Regions from separate parts of the Homo sapiens genome. Here regions 1, 3 and 4 are each linked to region 2. Evidence: fine-mapped expression QTL. A gene starts in region 2. Each other region holds a variant in brackets. All regions are shown on one strand. Distances are between the middles of the regions.

Region 1 (5,207 bases), 37 kb after region 2:
TATAATCACAGCACTTTAGGAGGCGGAGGTGGGGGTGAAACAGGAGAGTTCCCTGGCTCCCCTTGCAGGACACTCAACAGGGGTGTTGATCTCTGTTCAGCTGCCACAAGCTCAAACCCCTTATAGGAGCGGGAGGATACAGACAGGCAGGTGCAGGAACCAGAGTGAGCGCTTTTGGGCTCTGGCCCCAGGGCAGCTTCTAGGGGTGGTGCTTTGACTCCTGAAGCCCCAGTAGGCATGCTACAGTGCTCTTTTAACTCTGCCATCCACAGATGGCTTAAGTGTTAACCAGCTCAGTGTCCCCTTGGTACCCGGGCCCTTGTCCAGCACCCAGAAAGAATCAGGTTACACACAGACTTGAAGAGTGGTGAATATGGGGGTTTTATTGAGTGGTGGAGGTGGCTCTCAGCAGGATGGATGGGGAGCTGGAACGGGGACGGAGTGGAAAGATGATCTTCCCTTGGAGTTCAGCAGTCCTGTGGCAGAACTCCTCTCCAACTGTCCCCAGCTGGACTCCTCTAGATATTCAGATGCTCCTTCTCTGCCATGCCGTTCTTCAGTTCTTTGGCTCTTCTGCTCATCTCCTCATGGACCCAGGGATTCGGGGTTTATATGGGTACAGGATGTGGGGTGTGGCGGGCCAAGATGCAACATTTGGGCACGAAAACAGGAATGCCTGTTCCCATTTGGGGCCTCGGGTTTCCAGGCTTGAGGGTGGGGCTTTTGGCAGGTAAATAAATCAAACAAAATAAATAACTTTCCAGTATTTCCCCGTCTCCTGTTCATATCAGGAAGATTGCCTGGGTCTATGAGTTTGAGACCAGCTTGGGCAACATAGTGAGACCTCTGTCTCTACAAAAATAAAAATATTAGCTGGGAGTGGTGATGTGTGCCTGTAGTCCCAAGTACTTAAGAGGCAGAGGTGGGAGGATCACTTGAGCCTGGGAGGTCGAGGCTGCAATGAACTGTGGTCATGCCATTGCATTCTACCCTGGGTGACAGAGTGGGATCCTGTCTCAAAAAAAGAAGAAAATCTGTTAAAAGGGTAGATTTCATGTTGTGTTCTTACCAAAATAAAATAAATTTTAAAAACAAGAGGCAATAAAATTTTTTAATTAAAAAGTTAAAATTTATTTTTTTATTTTGAGACAGCATCTCACTCAGTTGCCCAGGCCAGAGTGCAGTGGTGTGATCTCTGCTCACTGCAATAGCTGGGACTACAGACACACACCACCATCCCCTGCTAATTTTTTGTATTTTTTGTAGAGACAGGCTTTTGCCGTGTTGGCCTGGCTGGTCTTGAATTCCTGACCTCAAGTGATCCACCCACCTCGGCCTTTCACGTGCTGAGATTACAAGCATGAGCCACCACGCCTGGCCTAAAATAAATAAATAAATAAATAAAATTGAAAATTTTATTTAAAAAATTTTGGCTGGGCGCAGCAGCTCACACCTGTAATCCCAGCACTTTGGGAGGCCGAGACAGGTGGATTGCATGAGCTCAAGACCAGCCTAGACAACATAGCAAAACCCCATCTCTACAAAAAATACAAAAATTAGGTGGGTATGGTGGCACATGCCTGTGGTCCCAGCTACTTGGGAGGCTGAGGCAAGAGGATTGCCTGAGTCCGGGAAGGTCAAGGCAGCAGTGAGCTGTGATTGTGCCACTGCAAATACCAGCCTGGGCAAGTAAGACCCGTTCTCAAAAAATATATATATATTTTTAAATAAAAATGGCTTGGCCTACAGAGCTTTCATGGCAGATGGAGAGAGCTGGTTTTCAAAATATTCTGTTTTTAAAAAGTACACAAGTGACTGGGCATCACCATGCTCACGCCTGTAATACCAGCACTTTGGGAGGCTGAGGCTGGCGGGTCACCTGAGGTCAGGAGTTCAAGACCAGCCTGACCAACATGGAGAAACCCTGTGTCCACTAAAAATAAAAAATTAGCCAGGTATGGTGGCACATGCCTGTAATCCCAGCTACTCAGGAAGCTGAGGCAGGAGAATCGCTTGAACCCAGGAAGCAGAGGTTGCAGTAAGCCGAGATTGCGCCATTGCACTCCAGCCTGGGCAACAAGAGCGAAACTCTGTCTCAAAAAAAAAAAAATAATAATAATAAGAACACAAGTAACAGATTTCTAATATAAAAATAAATCAAACAGTACATAATGTGATCCTCTGCCTCTCTTCCCCACTTGTGGATGGCACTCTCCCCATGAGTACCCCTAGTGATAACTGCCATCTGTACTCATTAAGACATTTAAAAATGCATAAACGTTTTAAAATGTAGATTCTATTTTTATTCAGGTATGATAAGGCCAACAGATCAGGGGACAATTGCCATTTAAAAGATAGCTTATTACTCCTCGTTCCCAAGAGGAGAGGTCACACCTGCACAGCCACGGGAGAGAACACTGAGGTTGGTCACAGGCAGAGGACAGGAGAACTGTGGTTTTCGAGGGAAGGAATGGGTGAGGCAGGGTAAGGCGGCTAAGCAGGTGGAGGACTAGCTAGTTGGAATAGTGTCAGCTGACTCCTGACTGTAGACTGCACTGAGTTGTCTGATATATGATGTCAGGGTGATTAGGGTAGAGAGATAACGGCCTTGAGTATGAAAGTCCAAAAAAGGAGGGATTTGGTGGTAGGGCTCTAGATTGGTTAGTTTGCATCTCAGGGATCAGCTAATCCCAGGAGGTGTAGTCTCTCCCTGGTCAACAAGGCCCCAAAATGTCAAAGCATCAATATGGAAACTAGAAAATATGGGTAATACCACATAAAAAAATATCTTAGGTTATT[T/C]TCCAACTTTTCCTAATCACAAATTATACAGTAATAAAAATCCTTATATAGATTTTTGCATGGGTGTATAATTCTGTAAGATACTTAGAAGTATAATTTCTAGATTAAAGGATTTACATATTTTAAGTATGTAATTTAATAAATTACAATTAAAATTTAATTTAATTCCCCCAAAATGAAACATTTTAACGATCCCAGCAATAGTATATGGAGAGGGTCCTTTTTCTCATACTCTCAGTAATACAGGATTTTATCAGTCTTTTAGTCAACTTGGAGAAAGAATGTTAGCAGTCAGCCACTAACAAAAACTAAGCTAATGTGAAAATGTTAATATCAGACAAAAGAGAATCAAATGCAAAAAGAATTTTAAAAGGCAGAGTGATATTTAATTTTTATGTCACCCTCTACCAAGACAGTTAAATGACAATACGGCTTCATGTGTAATTACACAGTTGCCGATGGCAATTTTACATGGTTTAAATTTAATATCTAATTATATAGCTTCAAAACGTGTAATGCAAAGACTCAAATACAAGGAGAATTTGCTAAATCTGTACTTGTCATAGAAATCTTCAAAATACCTCTTTCAAAGATGGTCAGATCAGGAAGAATAAACAAAGATAAAGAGGATCTGAATTAATATAATTAACAAATTTAGGCCGGGTGTGGAGGCTCACACCTGTAATCCCAGCACTTTGGGAGGCTGAGGTGGGCAGATCACTTGAGGCCAGGAGTTGGAGACCAGCCTGGCCAACATGGAGAAACCCTGTCTCTACTAAAAATAGAAAGACTAGCTGGCCATGGCAGCGGGGGTGCCTGTAATCCCAGCTACTCGGGATGCTGAGGCATGAGAATTGCCTGAACCCAGGAGGCAGAGGTTACAGTGAGCTGAGATTGTGCCACTGCACTCCAGTCTGGGCGACAGAGCAAGACTGTCTCAAAATAATAATAATAATAATAATAATAATGAACAAACTTGACCTACTAGATATAGACAAACAGAATATCACTTTCTTTGAGAATTTCCATGGTGCATTTAGTACCTACCAGAACACACACACGAGCATCTTAGATTAACTGAAAAAGTAAGTTGTCCAAGAATAGTGATTAACCACAGATTAGGTTATATCCTAAGGAAAGTGTCCATAGAAAGGGCAGGATATTTCAAGCAGGCTTTGCAAACAGAAAAGCCAGCCCCAACAAAGAATGCCTCCTATGTGTCTTCTGCTGAGGACTCCCCTTGGACTCCAGAGCCCCTAGGCCCCTGTGTCTTGTCAGCACTCTGCTATTTCAGGGCTAAGGAGCTCAGGCTTCTCAGATGTGGCCTGGGAAACACAGTCTTCTAATCCAGGAGAGTAAGAAGATTTAGGACTGACGTGGGTGCTGTTAGAGAAACCCATCTCCTTGGGTATATGGGAGATACCCCGACTATGCAGTCGCCCCCTTCAAATCTTCCTTGGGGGCCTGATCTGACTGACGTCAGGGGGTGCCTACTCCTTCGAGGCAAGAAGCCTGAACTTTCCTTCCTGTCACTGTGAATACTTGGCCAGGGCTGTGAATGTCACCATTGCTTTTCAGGAAGAAGACATGGCAGACTAGGGCTGCACCTTCTTTATGGGCTCTGTAGGTCTGAAAGAAATCAGATCAGCCTGGGATCCCTCAGCCAACTCTGAAGACAGGATGGGGATCACGCCTGCATGTTAAAGAGATTTCTGCCTTGTTGTGTCTCATGGTAAATAAAAAACCCAGCAAAGAAGGTAAGAACTTTCTGTCTAGCCTAAAGTAGAAATGGGTGAGAACAGGAGGGCGACACTTATGTTTTTACCTAGGAAATAAATACAGAGTTGTTTTGAGACAAAGGTCAAAGACAGCTCCTCTGTTATCTATCAACTCATCCAGATGGGGTCTTTGCTATCTGTGTGATGAGATCTTCAAGTGCTGGGTGACCATTCTGCCCTGGATTTCTTGGGCTCACTTAGTGGACAGATAAACACTTTTTTTTTCCACCTAAGAGACAGAGTCTCACTATGTTGCCCAGACTGGAGTGCAGTGGCTGTTCATAAGTGCAATCATAGCACACTACAGCCTCGAACTCCTGGGCTCAAGCAGTCTTCTCACTTCAGCCTCCTGAGTAGCTGGAACCACAGGCATGCTGCACTACCACCCCTAGCTAATTTTTGTTTTTCATGATAATGTGAGGCATTGATGATGCTAAGTCAAATTCTAGAAGGAGAAGGGGTCTCACCCACGTTGGGTGGATGTACTCATCACCTGGAGAGATGGCTCAGCTTGGGAAATCATCAGGGGGAGAAGACAGCTGGTGATTACCAAAGGTGCTGATTCAACAATCTCGGGCTCCCTCAAGCTCGTTTTCTGTGGCTGACCTTATGAAGTTTTCACATTTTTAG
Region 2 (5,207 bases):
CAGCTAATTTTTATATTTTTAGTAGAGACGGAGTTTCACCATGTTGGTCAGGCTGGTCTCAAACTCCTGACCTCCAGTGATCTGCCCGCCTCGGCCTCCCAAAGTGCTGGGATTACAGATGTGAGACACCATGCCCGGCCTGCTTCACAGTTTCTATGGGTTAGGAATTTGGGGGTGGCTTAGCTGAGGCAGGAAGGTCCACTTCCACCATGGCTCACTCAGATGACTTGACAAGAAGCCTCAGTTCCTCTCTGGCTCTTGGTAGAAGCTCAGTTCCTCAACAAAGGGACTTTCTTTTTTCTTTTTTTTCAATTTTATTTACTTCTTTTTTGGAGACAGGGTCTCACTTTGTCATTTAGGCTGGAGTACAGTGGCGTGATCATAGTTCACTGCAGCCTCAAATTCCTGGGCTCAAGTAATCCTCCTACCTCAGCCTACCAAGTAGCTGGGACTAAAGATACATGCCCCCATGCCCGGCTAATTTATTTTTATTTGTTTGTAGAGATGGGGTCTCACTGTTGCCCAGGCTGGTCTCCAATTCCTGGGCTCAAGCAGTCCTCCTGCCTGACTCTCCAAGTGCTGAGATTTGTGTCCAGCCACAAAGGGACATTTTCATAGGGCTTCCTCAGGACATGACAATGGGCTTCCTATAGTGAGCAATTCAAGAGAGCAAGGAGAAACCCACAGTGTCTTTTGTGACCTAGTCTTGGAAGTCAACCACCAGCAATTCTGATTCTATTCATTAAACCAAGTGACCTCAGATGATCAGCCAGCCAACGTGCTGGGATGACAGGCGTGAACCACCATGTCTGGCAAGAAATTTTGTAATTCCTTTAAGTGTTATCCTTAAAAACAAGTGATTGATTATAAAAGTTGTATTTCTTCATCCTAAAATTGGTAAAAAATAAAAAAAAAATGTGTTTAGTTTCTACTATGCATTTAGTTTTTTTTTTTTTTTTTTTTTTTTTTTTTTTTTTTTTTTTTTTTTTTGAGACAAAGTTTTGCTCTTGTCACTCAGGCTAGAGTGCATTGGCACAATCTCGGCTCACTGCAACCTCTGCCTCCCAGGTTCAAGAGGTTCTCCTGTTCAGCCTCCCAAGTAGCTGGGATTACACCACCACGCCCGGCTAATTTTTGTATTTTTAGTAGAGACAGGGTTTCACCATGTTGGCCAGGCTGGTCTCAAACTTCTGACCTCAGGTGATCCACCCGCCTCAGCCCCCCAAACTGCTGGGATTACAAGCCTAAGCCACCATGCCCGGCCCTTTCATTTAGTTTCTACTATTCATGTACACATGTACCCTGTTTTACCCACAGACAACTGTGCTAACCGTTAAGAATGTCCCAGCCTTACTAAGATTTTCCTAAGTTTGTCTCCCAGACATTGGGAACTCAAAGGTGAAGAAACTTAGGTGTGAAGGTGGATTGTGGATTCAGACCTCCTTACTTGGAGGCCAGTGCAGAGACACACCAGCAGAGTAACCTCGGGTACATGGCTTCACCTCTCCAAGCCTCACACTCCTCATCAGTAAAGCGAGGATTAGTGGAACCTACCTGTTGGCTTGTTTTGATGATTAAATGAGATAATGTCCGCGAAAAATATTTAGCAGATAAATGTTCACTAAATTTTGAGCTTTAAAAAAATGTTTTACCAGCCAGGCGCGGTGGCTCACGCCTGTAATCCCAGCACTTTGGGAGGCTGAGGCCGGTGGATCACCTTAGGTCAGGAATTCGAGACTAGTCTGGCCAACATGGTGAAACCCTGTCCCTACCAAAAATACAAAAATTAGCCAGGTATGGTGGTGGACGCCTGTAATCCCAGCTACTTGAGAGGCTGAGGCAGGAGAATCGCTTGAACCCAGGAGGCGGAGTTGGCAGTGAGCGGATATCTCGCCGCCGCACTCCAGCCTGGGCAATAGAGTGAGACTACATCTCAAACAAACAAACAAACAAGCAAACAAAGTTTAACTGAAAAGTCTTTCCTGACACCTTTTCGCTACTGAAAATCTTACAGCCCCTCCCGGCCGCAGCCTACACTCCTTCGGCCCAAGCAGGTGCGCTGGAACCGGCAGTTGGTGAGAAGCCGGCTGCCGGCAGCCCCAACCCTTAGCGGCCCCGCGGTCAGGGACCTCCAGGCCCGATGGAGAGTCGGGGCGGGCTAGTGGATGCGCGGCGGGGACGGGAGGTGTCGCCGCTCCGGCTTGCCGGTGACAGGGGCGGGCGGGTCGTGCGCGGGCCCCACCTCCAGCGATCGCAGCCCAGCCCCAGCTCCTCCTCCTCCACGGCTTACCCGGGCTCCGACAGCGGCTGCAGGTCTCCAAGTTGCGGCCGCTGGAGCCCGAGCCATGCGGACCGCGGACCGGGAGGCGCGCCCGGGGCTTCCGTCCCTGCTGCTGCTGCTGCTGGCCGGGGCCGGGCTGTCAGCCGCCTCGCCCCCAGCAGCGCCGCGCTTCAACGTGAGCCTGGACTCGGTCCCCGAGCTGCGCTGGCTGCCCGTGCTGCGGCACTACGACTTGGACTTGGTGCGCGCCGCGATGGCGCAAGTCATCGGGTGAGCTGGGGCCCTGGACGGGGTCTGCGGGGACACCGGCCCTGCGGGTCGGAGTCAAACGCGCGCTGCTCAGAGTGCTTTAAACGGGGACGCTTTACTCCCCGCCACCCTTGGAGAACTGGTTTTGGCTGCCGCCCTGAGCAGCGTCCGGGTTGGGGAGAATCCAGCGCGGCAGGTTCGGCTTTCAAGTTCGGTGTCACCCGTGGCACGCCAGTCCTTGAGCCATTCCGGGTCAGCGTGGCGCGCGAGTTGTCGCCCGGGCTGCATAGCTACCAAGGAGGGGCAACCCGCGCCTTCCTTGCGGGCCTCGCGGGCCTTCCAAGCTTGCCCCTTTGGGACCAGCCTCACTCGCCCTCCCCATTCGGAGTTTTCTTACCCGCCGCCTTCCCCCCGCCCCCTTCCCCCCACTCCCGGGAGGCTGCAGATTGAGTGACGCCGCGCCTGGGCGGTCCACTGACTGGGGAGCAGTGGCCCTGAGACCTCACGCCCTAAGGATGTAGCCCCGCTCGCAGTGCACACGCAGTCGCACGCCGCCGACCTCTGAGCGGGTCAGACGCCCTTGTGCTTTTTGTTTCTAGGGACAGAGTCCCCAAGTGGGTGCACGTGTTAATCGGAAAAGTGGTCCTGGAGCTGGAGCGCTTCCTGCCCCAGCCCTTCACCGGCGAGATCCGCGGCATGTGTGACTTCATGAACCTCAGCCTGGCGGACTGCCTTCTGGTCAACCTGGCCTACGAGTCCTCCGTGTGAGTGCCCCAAGCCCGCGCGGAGTAACGCGGGGCTTGCGGGGGCCCCCGACACAGACTAGCGGGAGGAGACATATTTTCCGTGTGATAAAAACAGGGCGGTGCCTGCTTGCCTAGAAACCTCCAGCGCTTCCTCTTTGCCTCTCTGGGTAAATCTGAGCTGCACATCGTAGGCTTCGAGAGGGAAAGCAGATTCTCCGATTCAACACTAAACTTTCCCTCTACGTGTAGCCCCGGGTTTTCTCTTCCCCAATCCAGGTAGCGTACTTTTAAAATTCTGCTCAAAGGCCGGGCGCGTTGGCTCACACCTGTAATCCCAGCACTTTGGGAGGCCAAGGTGGGCAGATCACGAGGTTAGGAGTTCGAGATCAGCCTGGCCAACATAGTGAAACCCCGTCTCTACGAAAAACACAAAAAATTAGCCAGGCGTGGTGGTGGGCGCCTGTAATCCCAGCTACTTAGGAGGTTGAGGCAGGAGAATCACTTGAACCCGGGAGGCGGAGGTTGCAGCGAGCCGCGATCGCGCCACTGCACACCAGCCCTGGCGACAGTGCGAGACTCTGTCTCAAAAAAAAAAAAAAAAAAATTCTGCTCAAAACGTACTTTTCCAGGAAGTTTTTGAAACTAAGCCTCCTCTCATCTGGACCCTTTAGTTAACTCAGTGGCCTTCCAGCTCTATACTGGCAGTGGCTCATCTCTGCCCTTATTTGTCGCCCTGCATTTATCCTTTCATGTGTGTCGTGGCTGAAGTGTCTGTGTCCACCAGGGCTGGGGCGACAGGGAACACTGCTCTAATAGGGCCAGCCAGTGTTTGGACCGGGAAGTGGGCATGATAAAATGTGCATCCAGGCTGGGCGCGGTGGCTCACGCCTGTAATCCCAGCACTTTGGGAGGCCGAGGCGGGTGAATCACCTGAGGTCAGGAGTTCAAGACCAGCCTGGCCAACATGGTGAAACCCCGTCTCTACTAATAATACAAAAAAATTACCAGGGCCTGGTGGCGGGCACCTGTGAATCCCAGCTACTTGGGAGGCCGAGGCAGGAGAATCACTTGAACCCAGGAGGCAGAGGTTGCAGTGAGCCAAGATGGCACCATTGCACTCTGCAGCCTGGGCGACAAAGCGAGATTCCATATCAAAGAAAAAAAGTGCACCCAGAAGTGAAAGCAACATGGAGTGTGTGGTTGATCCCAGGCAAAGTGCAGGGGACCACTAAAGGTTTATGGGCTCAGTAATAGGCCCTGGAATAAAGAGAGGTTTTGACTTGGTTTCTTCCTTCAATACTTATTGTTTTGCCAGCAGACTAGCTTCATCTCGTAACCTCTTGTACATACTTAGAGCTTCTTGCTGCCTAAAGATGATGGGGGTAGAAAAGATCTTGGAATAATGAAACTTTACTGGCCCAGGCATTTTCCCAGAACACCTAGGCAGAGTAAGCTAAAAAGCACTGGGACTGCCTTCCTCTTCAGGAAATGCTTTCAGGCACAGAAAAGACACAGGCCTGCTAAATAACATGCTTTTCAGTTGAACTAAGTTATTATAATTTTACCACCTCCCTCTCCTACCTCCAACTTTTTCCTATTTTTAACTTACAGCTTTCTCAATGAAAAATCACGAATCATTTTTACCCTCATCTGTTGGAGTCACCATATTCAAACACATTAAAGCAAAAGTTCTAGTAAAAACATTCTAACTTTTGGATTTGATACTAAGGTATTTATTGAATTGCCTAATAGCACCATTCAATTCACTAGCATTAACAAAGGAAATGCTTTCTTCTCATGTTGGAAGTAAGCCTTCTTGAATTAGAATAATACTAGCTACCCTTTATTGAGCCTACTGGGTGCCAGGCACTTCATGAACACAGTCCCGTGGGGAAGATGGTATCATCTGTTTTGTGATGTGGAAACCAAGC
Region 3 (5,205 bases), 69 kb before region 2:
TCAGAATATTCTCTTGGGGCTTCTAAGACTTTCAAGAAATAAACCCCTTTCTAGTCAGTTTAATACTAACAACAGCTGCCGAGAGGAGGGGAAATCCACACTGTGAGAAATTCAAACAGGCCTGGAGGTTTCTTTATGAGAGAAACTTCTCCTCTCACAAGTAAAAAGGGAAGGCTCTTACCGTCCCTGCCACAGAGTCAGTCACACTGGATAATTAAACAGAACACCTCGATTCCACAACCAAAAAGATTCAAGAGGGAGGCTGGGCCACACTTGTGAAAACTAAGAATTCCGCTTTGTAAAGTTCTTTGGGGTTACATTAGCATTTGGATCCCCTACGGACACAGAACTGGAATTTTTCAAGGCACAGGAAGTTAAAATTCTTGTCCAAAAAGGAATTGGTAACTGTTGATTTCAACTCTAGATCATCTTTGGCTCCATTCCCAGGGCTGTGAGAAACGCCTGCAACATCCTCTCATCAGGTTTCTGTTTCTCCTAAAAGCCTTGTCTAGCCATAAATGCAACGATCAATGGGATTTTCTCCTTCCCGCTGCCTGCTTCCTGAGAGAATGTGGTTGCTCTCAGACTTTGCATGACAAGTTCCTAAACGAAGCCCAGGAAACTAGTGTCTGGACAGGCCTGAGCTGGGCGCAGCGGCCCCAGCCTGCTCAGAGGGGCGGGGCCCTACCCTACCATGGCAGAACAGTTTCACCACGAAGTAGGGTCAGGCGAGAGAAGCCCTCCCATTCCGCTTGCTATCTCAGAAAATTAGCCCCTTTTTGGGTAACAAATAAGATCTGGCCTCAGTGACTCCCAACTGACCCCAACACCTCCTTTCTCTTATCCGAAGGGCCTCTTTCCCAGTCACTGAAGCCCACGGCCCAGGGTTACCCCTAAGCCCAGTGCCCTGGCCCTTCTGGGGCCGTCGTTCCCTGCTGGCCTCACCCAAGCCTCGTGTGAAACCTGCAAAACGGGCCTCTTCGCTCATGGCCACCGCCGCTGAGAACCTTCCCACCCATCCCCAAAAGCACGGCCATCTCGGCTGGGGAGGCTGCGGGCCGCTCAGGGGACAGAGAGGAGAGATCCTGAAGGCACAACCCCTACCTTTTGCCCCCAAAGTGCTTCTCTTCGCCTCCGGCTGGATCAGCACTGGCAGCAAACGTACCCAGCGGCAACACGAGCAGCACGAGCGAGCGTCGAGACCTCCGGGTATAACCTCCTCACTGAAGAAGGTTCTGGAAGACCAGTTGGCTGGGCATGCGCAGTACACGCACCTTGGGCCCGGCTGAGGTCGCTGCGTGTGAGGCCCCTGGAGCCAGGCAGCCCTTTACAGACCCTATCCAACTTCCAGACCTGCCGAGCCAGCTCCCAGCTCCTTCCCTCATGCGTGTGCGCTTACTGGGTGCTAGGCACTGTGTTTAGCACCATGCTCAGACGGGGAGCGTCGCAGGCCTTCCTTGCCTAGTGGTGGAAGGAAATGTTAACCATAGGGTTGCAGGGAAACGTAGCGTTGCTGCGGACACGGGCTCAGCAAGGCCTCTGCAAGTGTGCGGTGAGAGCCCCTCTGGGGTTCAGGAAAGTCTTCCCAGGGAAATGATGCTGGCCTGGGTAACTATGGTGAGTAACTACTATGCAGGAGGGCAGGAATGAGGAGCATGCACAGTCGCTCCAGGCAGAAGAATGGCATGAGCAAAAACAGTGCCATGGGAAGGAGCATTGTCCCCTTTGAAAACTGAGAGAAGGGCCGGGTGCAGTGGCTCACGCCTGCAATTGCAGCACTTTGGGAGGGCGGGCAGATCACTTGAGGTCAGGAGTTCGAGACCGGCCTGGGCAACGTGGTGAAACCCGGTCTCTACTAAAAATACAGAAATTAGCCTGGCATGGTGGTGGATGCCTGTAATCCCAGCTACTTGGGAGGCTGAGGCAGGAGAATCGCTTGAGCCTGGGAGACGAAAGTTGCCGTGAGCTGAGATTGCACCATTGCACTCTAGCCTGGGCAAAAAAAAAAAACGGTCTCAAAAAGAAAGAAAAGAAAAGAAAAGAAGAGGGGAGGGGAAGGAGAAGGAGAAAAGAAAAGAAAACTGAGAGAAGACAAAGTGATGGGAGCAGAGAGCTGTGTAAGAAGAGGCTAGAAAGGTGGGTAGCACCAACAGTGCTGGGCCTTAGTTCTTATCCTAAGAAATTTCCATCCTCCTTTCTTTGCTGGAAAGAACAGCCACTAGCCCTGTGAGGCTTTGCAGTTGACAATCCGTCCTTGGCATTAATTTTAACACCCTGTGAGGTCTAATAATTTTCTTAAATGAGGGAGATGAAGCTCACAAAAATTAAGTATTTTGCACACAGTCATTAAGTGGTAAAGCAGGAACGTGAACCTATTTGCACTCTATGCATTGCCACAGTCAGTACCAAAATTAAGCATGAGCAAATGGATAAGCTGTATCAATGGTCACCACATGTTTTATTCAAAAAGAATTCTGTAATTCCATTTAAGTATTAATAATCTGTATAGAAGTCAGTCAAAAAATGTGCACCATGTGACATGAAATGCTAATATCCATTTTCCTCCAATTCTACAGCATGCATTGTCAATGGGAAGAGAGGTAAATTGCTCCCAAGGGGGAAAATATTGGTTCTTGGAGAGCTAAAAAATTTTAGATATTGCAATGACTAGTGGCCTACCAAGGTTCAACCCTACCCAACAAAATCTTATTTCTTAGCATTTGATTTCTCTCTTCAGGAAGAAATTAAATTTAGTTTTCAGTTCATTTTATTTTTTCTCAGAGCAAGGTGAAATGTGGGGG[G/T]GTGTGTGTGTGTGTGTGGGTGCACATGCGCGCACACACGCATGCAGTGCTGAGTCCATAATGAAAAAAAACGTTGAGAAACATTGTTTTACAATAAGGAAATCTCCAATCTTTAGCTAGTCAACCAAAATAAAGATGACGTTTCTTAACTTCCCCTACAACTAGGTGTAGCCATGTGATTAAGGCCTGCCTCCATGGGAGGTGATAGAAAATGATGGGTGCAACTTCTAGGATGTCTAAAAAGGAGGGACATGCCCTTTTTCTGCCTTCTCATCATCCTATACCTGGAAATTGGACATGGTGGCAAGCCACCTTTGGCCATGTGCATGAGGGCAGCAATCTAGAGATGGTGACAACACAAGAAAGGAGAAGCCTGGAAGACCTCATGGGAAAGAGCCACTATCCAAGTGCTAATCCACCTACATCTCTCAGGGAGAAATAAGCTTCTATCTTAGCCACTGTTTTCTGTTGTTGTTTTTTTTTTTTTTATTTTTCCATAAGTTATTGGGGTACAGGTGGTATTTGGTTACACGAATAAGTTCTTTAGTGGTGATTTGTGAGATTTCGGTTCACCCATCACCCAAGCAGTATACACTGCACCCTATTTGTAGTCTTTTATCCCTCACCCCGCTCCCACTCTTCTCCACAAGTCCCCAAACTCCATTGTATCATTCTTATGCCTTTGTGTCCTCATAGCTTAGCTCCCACATACCAGTGAGAACAGATGATGATTGGTTTTCCATTCCTGAGTTACTTCACTTAGAATAATAGTCTCCAATCTCATCCAGGTCACTGCTAATGCCGTTAATTCATTCCTTTTTGTGACTGAGTAGTATTCGATTGTGTATATATAAACCACAGTTTCTTTATTCACTCATTGATTGATGGGCATTTGGGTTGGTTCCATGATTTTGCAATTGTGAATTGTGCTGCTATAAACATGCATGTGCAAGTACATTTTTCAAATAATGACTTCTTTTCCTCTGGGTAGATACCCAGTAGTGGGATTGCTGGATAAAATGGTAATTCTGCTTTTTAGTTCTTTAAGGAATCTCCACACTGTTTTCCATAGCGGCTGTGCTAGTTTACATTCCCACCAGCAGTGTAGAAGTGTTCCCTGATCACCAAGTCCACACCAACATCTGCTGTTTTTTGATTTTTTGATTATGGCCATTCTTGCAGGTGTAAGGTGGTATCACACCGTGGTTTTGATTTGCATTTCCCTGATCATTAGTGATGAGCATTTTTTCATATGTTTGTTGGCTATTCGTGTATCTTCTTTTGAGAATTGTATATTGATGTCCTTAGCCCACTTTTTAATGGGATTGTTTGTTTTTTACTTAATGATTTGTTTGAATTCATTCTAGATTCTGGATATTAGTCCTTTGTCAGGTATATAGATTGTGAAGATTTTCTCCCACTCTGTGGGTTGTCTGTTTACTCTGCTGACTGTTCCTTTTGCTGTGCAAAAGCTCTTTAATTAGGTCCCAGCTATTTATCTTCATTTTTATTGCATTTCTTAGCCACTGTTAATTTGGGTCTCTTACATGCAACTGACCCCTTATTCTAACCAATTTATTAGTTTAAAAAATAATACTGTAGCAGGAATGATACAGAATGAGCTTACCACTAGTAGAAAATGACCTGGTCCCAGAGGAAATTAAGGTGCTTTAAGTTGTTAAGTGGGCAATATAAGAAAATATCAATGTAGCCATCTATTATACAGAAGAATATGCCATAAATAGTAAGGGAATTTGAAAAGTATATTATTTATCTGGACTTTAATATTTCCCATCTGGAAACCACATCTCCAACCTTTGTTGTATAACATTAGTATATTCATTATATAACCTATTCTTCACACAGGTGAGCAACTGTGAATGTGCCAAAGGCTATCAGTGTTGCTAGTTTCACATCCCTTACTATAAACCACCCATTTATGTGAAATGGAAATAAAAACATGCAGAAATTCCCTTGGATCTGAGACTAGGGTTTCCCCCAGCACAATCAAGTTTGTGGTCAATTTAGTTAGCTCAGCTAAAGATACTAGCCAATCAGAGTTTAGGAGAGAAATGAATATCCTAAATAAATATGATCCCCAAAATGTGTTCTCTAAAGAATTTCTCAGGCTCAAAATCCAATACAGGAGTGACTTGGAACTCCATTCTATCACTATGAAGAAAAGTGGTGTTCTTTTCCTCTTGGGCATCATCTTGCTGGTTCTGATTGGAGTGCAAGGTAAGGGGTTCTGAGTTAGGTTGTAAAGTAAGAGAAGTGATTCACTGTAAAAGAATCTTGATTAGCCAGATAAAGGTGAATGTTCTGCCTGCATTGAAGAGTAATATTTGGTCAGTCATAAAAGCTTCTCAGTGACATGACCAGTTATCCAAAGTTCATAACTTCG
Region 4 (5,207 bases), 25 kb after region 2:
ATTTTTTAAGTAGGGACAGGGTTTCACCGTTTTAGCCAGGATGGCCTTGATCTCCTGACCTCATGATCTGCCCACCTCGGCCTCCCAAATTGCTGGGATTACAGGAGTGAGCCACTGCGCCCGGCCAGCTCTGGGAATCTTAAATTCAAACTTGGCCTTCCATAGTGTTGTCAAACTAGAAGGAAAAACACTTTGACTGGCTGACCTCTTGATTCCTACATTTGAAATATTCTGGCAGTGAGGTGTTCATCCTAACTCAGTCAGGTAGCTGTGGACAGCCTTCACCTGTTAGGAGCTCCTTAGAAATAAATTCTGAATACCTTTGGTTTTCTTTTATCCTCCGGAGGAATTTCCACTATCTCCGAAGCTGTTCCTTGTTCCACTGACAATTCGCTTAGTTAATGTTCTTTTTTAGCCTGTACCCTTGATAGCAGCATTCTGTGAGCAATGGTTTCTCTAGTGTATAGCCTAGGATTTTACTCACATTCTTTTTAATTTCTTTTTCTTTTTTTTTTTTTTTTAAGTGAAAGCAGGCCAGGTGCGGTGGCTCACGCCTGTAATCCCAGCCCTTTGGGAGGCCAAGGCGGGTGGATCACTTGAGGTCAGGAGTTCAAGACCAGCCTGGCCAACATGGTGAAACCTCGTCTCTACTAAAAATACAAAAATCAACCAGGCATGACGGTGCACGCCTGTTATCACAGCTACTTGGGAAGCAGCGGCTGGAGAATTGCTTGAACCTGGGAAGTCGAGGCTGCAAGTGAGCTGAGATCATGCCATGGCAGTCTAGCCTGGGCAACAGAGCGAGACTCTGTTTCAAAAAAAAAAAGAAAAGAAAACTAATTAGTCAGTATTCTGCTACTCAAACAAATGAGCTATTTGGATAACAAAGCATACCCAGTGGTCTGCTAGTAAACCAGCTCTTTGTGTGGGAAGGGACAAATGAAAAAATTCCCAAATTTGTAGCATTTGTTGACTTCCATGGTGTGAATACTCCCACATGGCTGATTTCAGGCTTATAGTTGGCTCATACACTTCCTGCATATTTAATAATTGGCCCTCACCAGACTGTAGGAGCTAGCTCCAATGCACTATTGACTGTACCCTTCATAGCGGGGCACAATGTTGCCCTTTTAATAGTCATTTTTTAAATGGGGGTTAATAAACTACTTTTGTGTTCTTATAGTTTTTTTAGGTAATTATAGAAGTGATGAATATATCTGGCTGGGCGCAGTGGCTCACATCTGTAATCCTAGTACTTTGGAAGCCGAGGCGGGTGGATCACTTGAGGTCAGGAGTTCGAGACCAGCCTGGCCAACATGGTGAAACCTCATCTCTACTAAAAATACAAAAATTAGCCAGGCGTCATGGTGCGTGCCTGTAATCCCAGCTACTTGGGAGGTGGAGGCAGGAAAATCACTCGAATCCGGGAGACAGAGGTTGCAGTGAGCTGAGATTGCACTCCAGCCTGGGCGACAGAGGGAGACTCCGTCTTAAAAAAAAAAAAAAAAAAAAAAAAAAAGAAGTGATGAATATATCTTTTAAAAATTAGTATTATAATAAAATAGTTACATTTATTTTAATAAAACAAAGCATTTTCTCTGCTTTGAACAGCCCTCATAATTTTACATGGTGGCAGTGGCCAGTTGGCTGTATTATAATTGAGTTAAGCATTCTCCAGTTGTTAGATTTTCCTCTATTAAAACTCTGAAATAAACATATTCGTTTGCCTCTCCCCTGCTTACTTTCAGATTATTTCCCTTGGCTGAATTCCCAGAAGTAGGATTACTGAGTTAACAGTTATGAATGTTTAAATGGTTTCTGAAATGGTTTGGTCAAAATAAAATTGTTAGAAATTATAAACAGTTTACCAAGTAGTGTTTTTCTCTGTTGTATACTTGAAAATTCAAGAGAAACTGCTTTTAAGTGACAATCACCATGGAGCCAGAATTAACACAGACTTCTGACTCTCAGGCCCTTTACATGTAATGATTAACCTCAACTGAGGCTGTTCAGTTGTATTAGGTTAATAGAAATAAGTGTAGCTGTATCTGAAAAAAAGAAAAAGAAACAACAAAAAAGTAGTCTGAACAAAGGCAGTTAGCTCTATGCTGCCCCTTTGTGCCATGCTGCAAAATTACACCCACCTGCAATACATCTCCATCCTCTGCTGTGGCTCATCAGTAGAGAAAATACTAAAACAGTAATGGAGAGCAGAACTATGACTAAAGTAAACGAGCAATTAAGGTCCTGTTCAGGGAACCTCCATTACCCTTGGACGAGCTCTGCACTTGCTTACAGTGCTGTCTTTAACTGGGTGTATGATTTAGCTGTGGACCCAGTGCTACTAATTCTGCCTGTTTCTGAACAACCCAGCTCCGATATTTTGCACATGCACCTCAACTGGATTCCAAGACAAATGTGTGTACATGTGGGCACATGTGCTCAAGTTGTTTAGGTCTCTTGTTATACGGAATGTGTAATCAATGACACTATACTTTTCATCCTTAGATCTGGGCAAGGTGGAGGGGCGGGGCAGGTGCCTTGATCCTGGAGCTTTAGAGGCCCTCCTCTGGAATTCCTCTAGTTGTGATACCACCCCCCCAAAGCATGGTGTAAGGAATCTGCTGGACCAAGGGCATTTGCCCACCTGGAGTCTGCCCAAGTACCCAGGACCCTGTAATTCTCAGCCTGAACAGCCCCACCTCCACTTCCAGGGTTTGTGTTTTCCTCTTCCCTGGGTGATATTCTCCTGATGGTGGTGCATGGCCACTGAGAG[A/G]GAGCACAGGGGCAGGTGCTTGCTGGGGAATGTGAAGGCGGTGATGTCACATGTGTGCAAGTAAGGCCCTTGTGGGTAGGACAGAGCCAGGGTGAGGGCCAAGGCTTGGTCTCCCCCACTGCCTTGGGGTAGAGCTCTGAGGAGTCTTGAGATTTTATTTATTTATTTTTTATGAGACAGAGTCTCACTCTGTTGCCCAGGCTGGAGTGCAGTGGCGCAATCTCAGCTCAGTGCAACCTCTGCCTCCCAAGTTTAAGCAATTCTCCTGCCTCAGCCTCCCTAGTAGCTGGGATTTCAGGCACCACCACACCCAGCTAATTAAGTCTGAGAATTTTAAGTTCCAACTTGGCCTTCCACAGTGTTGTCAAAATAGGAGGAAAGTGCACTTTGACCTCTTGATTCATAGATTTAAAATATTCTGGCATAAAGGGCCTTGTCCCAGATCTCAAGTGTTAGGGAAGCACTTGGTCATTTTCTTCCCTTTCTGGCATATTAGAGAAAATGATGTGTACATAAAATTTCCTCATAATTTTCAGCTTCACAATTTATACTACGGTAATGAGCGCCGGTAGCCCAGACAAGTACATGACTAGGATCAGAAACCCGAGTAGAAAGTAAGTCAGCAGAAGAGCGAGTTCGCCCGTGCTGTGAAAGGTTTGTTGTTACTGTTTTGTGGAGAGGGGGTGAGGTGGGTGTGTGCTGGTATTTCTTACAGAGGGTGGTAACATCCTTAAAATGTATACATATATAATATTTTCTGACAAGCATCTGGCATTGTCATTTGTGTCAGATTGTCATCATTAGATATTTTATTTGGAATTGTTTGTATGAAAACCAATCTTCGGCGGGGCGTGATGGCTCATGACTGTAATTTCAGCACTTTGAGAGGCAGAGGCAGGCAGATCACTTGAGGTCAGGAGTTCAAGACCAGCCTGGCCAACATGGTGAAACCCCATCTCTACTAAAACTACAAAAAAACTGTTAGCCAGGTGTGGTGGTGGGTACCCAAAATCCCGACTACTCAGGAGCTGAGGTAGGAGAATCACTTGAACTCGGGAGGTGGAGTTTGTAGTGAGCTGAGATCACACCACTGCACTCCAGCCTGGGAAACAGAGTGAGACTCCATTAAAAAAAAAAAAAAAATCAGTCTTTGAATTAAATGCGTTTTTTTCTTCCCTTACAGATGATTTTTTAAAAAATGAAATTCTTGAAGAGCTGCACCTTAAAAAATAAGACAAAGTGAAAGTATTGTATTATGTTACAAACAATGCAGGCTCCTTCCTCATTTAACTTTACAACCTTGCGAAGTGGGTCCAGGAGATTTGGAGTTTGTGGTAAAGCCAGTAATGGGCATTGTCCTGCATTCCCTTCCCTTCATGGTTTGCCTCGATCCTCTCTAAGCTTCTATCCTGGCCTGAATAACTCAAAGATAATTGGTCTCAGAGATCAAGCCATATCCTCAGGCCTTATTTCCATCTTCTCATGATTCTGCCATCATACCTTTGCTTCTCCGCTAATGAAATGAGCTGGCAAGACCTCTGTTCATTGTGAAGTGCTTCTGAAAGAGCCTAAGAAAAAAGGCTCATCTGAAAGAAATGGAGAACTCTATTTCGAACCAAGCCTGTTTGAATGTGTGTTAGTCTGATCTTTGATCATGTGTTTCCATGTAATGGGAGTCTCGTTTTTTATAATGTTTCTAACGTTTTATTGAAAAACCTATGGCCCTCCTTCTTTCTCAATAGCTACTTTCTTACTGCTTTTTGAAAATAATATGCAACCAAATTATTTCTTAATGTCACATAATTAAGTAATAAAATGTCAAAAGAAATGTTGGCAAGGAGAATAAAAAAATTTCCAAGAAACTTAGCGTTATGCTCTCCCTGCTTTCTTTACCTCCGAAGTCTTATGGTTCTGAACTGCTGTCCTGAGAAAGCAACTCTCTTAGTTGTGATGTTATTTAAGTGTCAGCATTCAAGGGAATGAACAGCTGCTTGGTAGAGTTTGATTTTTCACATGTGCATGAAAGAAATGTCCTTGAGGATGAAGTCAGAAAAGGTTAAAAGTGTAAACGAAAATGTGCCTGAAGCAGCACTCAGTCCATGAGAGAGTTATTTTGCCAAGGCTAAGGATGTGCCCGGGAAAAAGAAACACCAGTCACAGGAGGACCTGTCCTGTGCTTTTCCCAAAGAGGGTTTGAGGAACTTCGGTATTTAAAGGGGAAAGAGCAAGCAGGAGCGGGGGATAAAAAGAGGGTAGACAGTGAGGCAAATGGTTACATTCTTGTGAGCTCTTATTATTGGTGCTCAGTGAATCTACATTTAGCACATGAAAACAAGGGAATGGAGGGAAAGTCAATGATGCATTTATCTCGTGCTCAGTAAATCTACATTTTACATAAGATAAAGCAACCGTGTGAAATTACAGCTATGTT

The links. PIP is the estimated chance that this variant, and not a neighbour inherited with it, causes the effect.
Region 1: its variant is fine-mapped to the expression of NAAA in whole blood (TOPMed, PIP 0.95).
Region 3: its variant is fine-mapped to the expression of NAAA in esophagus mucosa (GTEx, PIP 0.91).
Region 4: its variant is fine-mapped to the expression of NAAA in tibial nerve (GTEx, PIP 0.95).

What each region holds. Positions count from the first base shown.
Region 1 is chr4:75,901,579-75,906,785 of GRCh38, reverse strand. PPEF2 (protein phosphatase with EF-hand domain 2) reads left to right here and starts at 4,334. Exons shown (of 17, transcript NM_006239.3): 1 at 4,334-4,556. The variant T/C (reference allele first, on the strand shown) is at 2,800.
Region 2 is chr4:75,938,088-75,943,294 of GRCh38, reverse strand. It overlaps NAAA (N-acylethanolamine acid amidase), which reads left to right and starts at 2,282. Exons shown (of 11, transcript NM_014435.4): 1 at 2,282-2,551; 2 at 3,130-3,294. The coding sequence starts at 2,346. RefSeq lists silencers at 2,060-2,529, 2,930-2,999.
Region 3 is chr4:76,007,220-76,012,424 of GRCh38, reverse strand. CXCL9 (C-X-C motif chemokine ligand 9) reads left to right here and starts at 4,916. Exons shown (of 4, transcript NM_002416.3): 1 at 4,916-5,039. The coding sequence starts at 4,976. It also overlaps a transcript of ART3 not described here. RefSeq lists enhancers at 314-373, 661-1,305. The variant G/T (reference allele first, on the strand shown) is at 2,802.
Region 4 is chr4:75,913,091-75,918,297 of GRCh38, reverse strand. NAAA (N-acylethanolamine acid amidase) reads left to right here. Exons shown (of 11, transcript NM_014435.4): 10 at 3,313-3,430; 11 at 3,960-4,638. The coding sequence ends at 3,394. Among named protein-coding and RNA genes, the nearest start is that of PPEF2, 13 kb to the right of the region's middle. RefSeq lists an enhancer at 2,171-2,220. The variant A/G (reference allele first, on the strand shown) is at 2,777.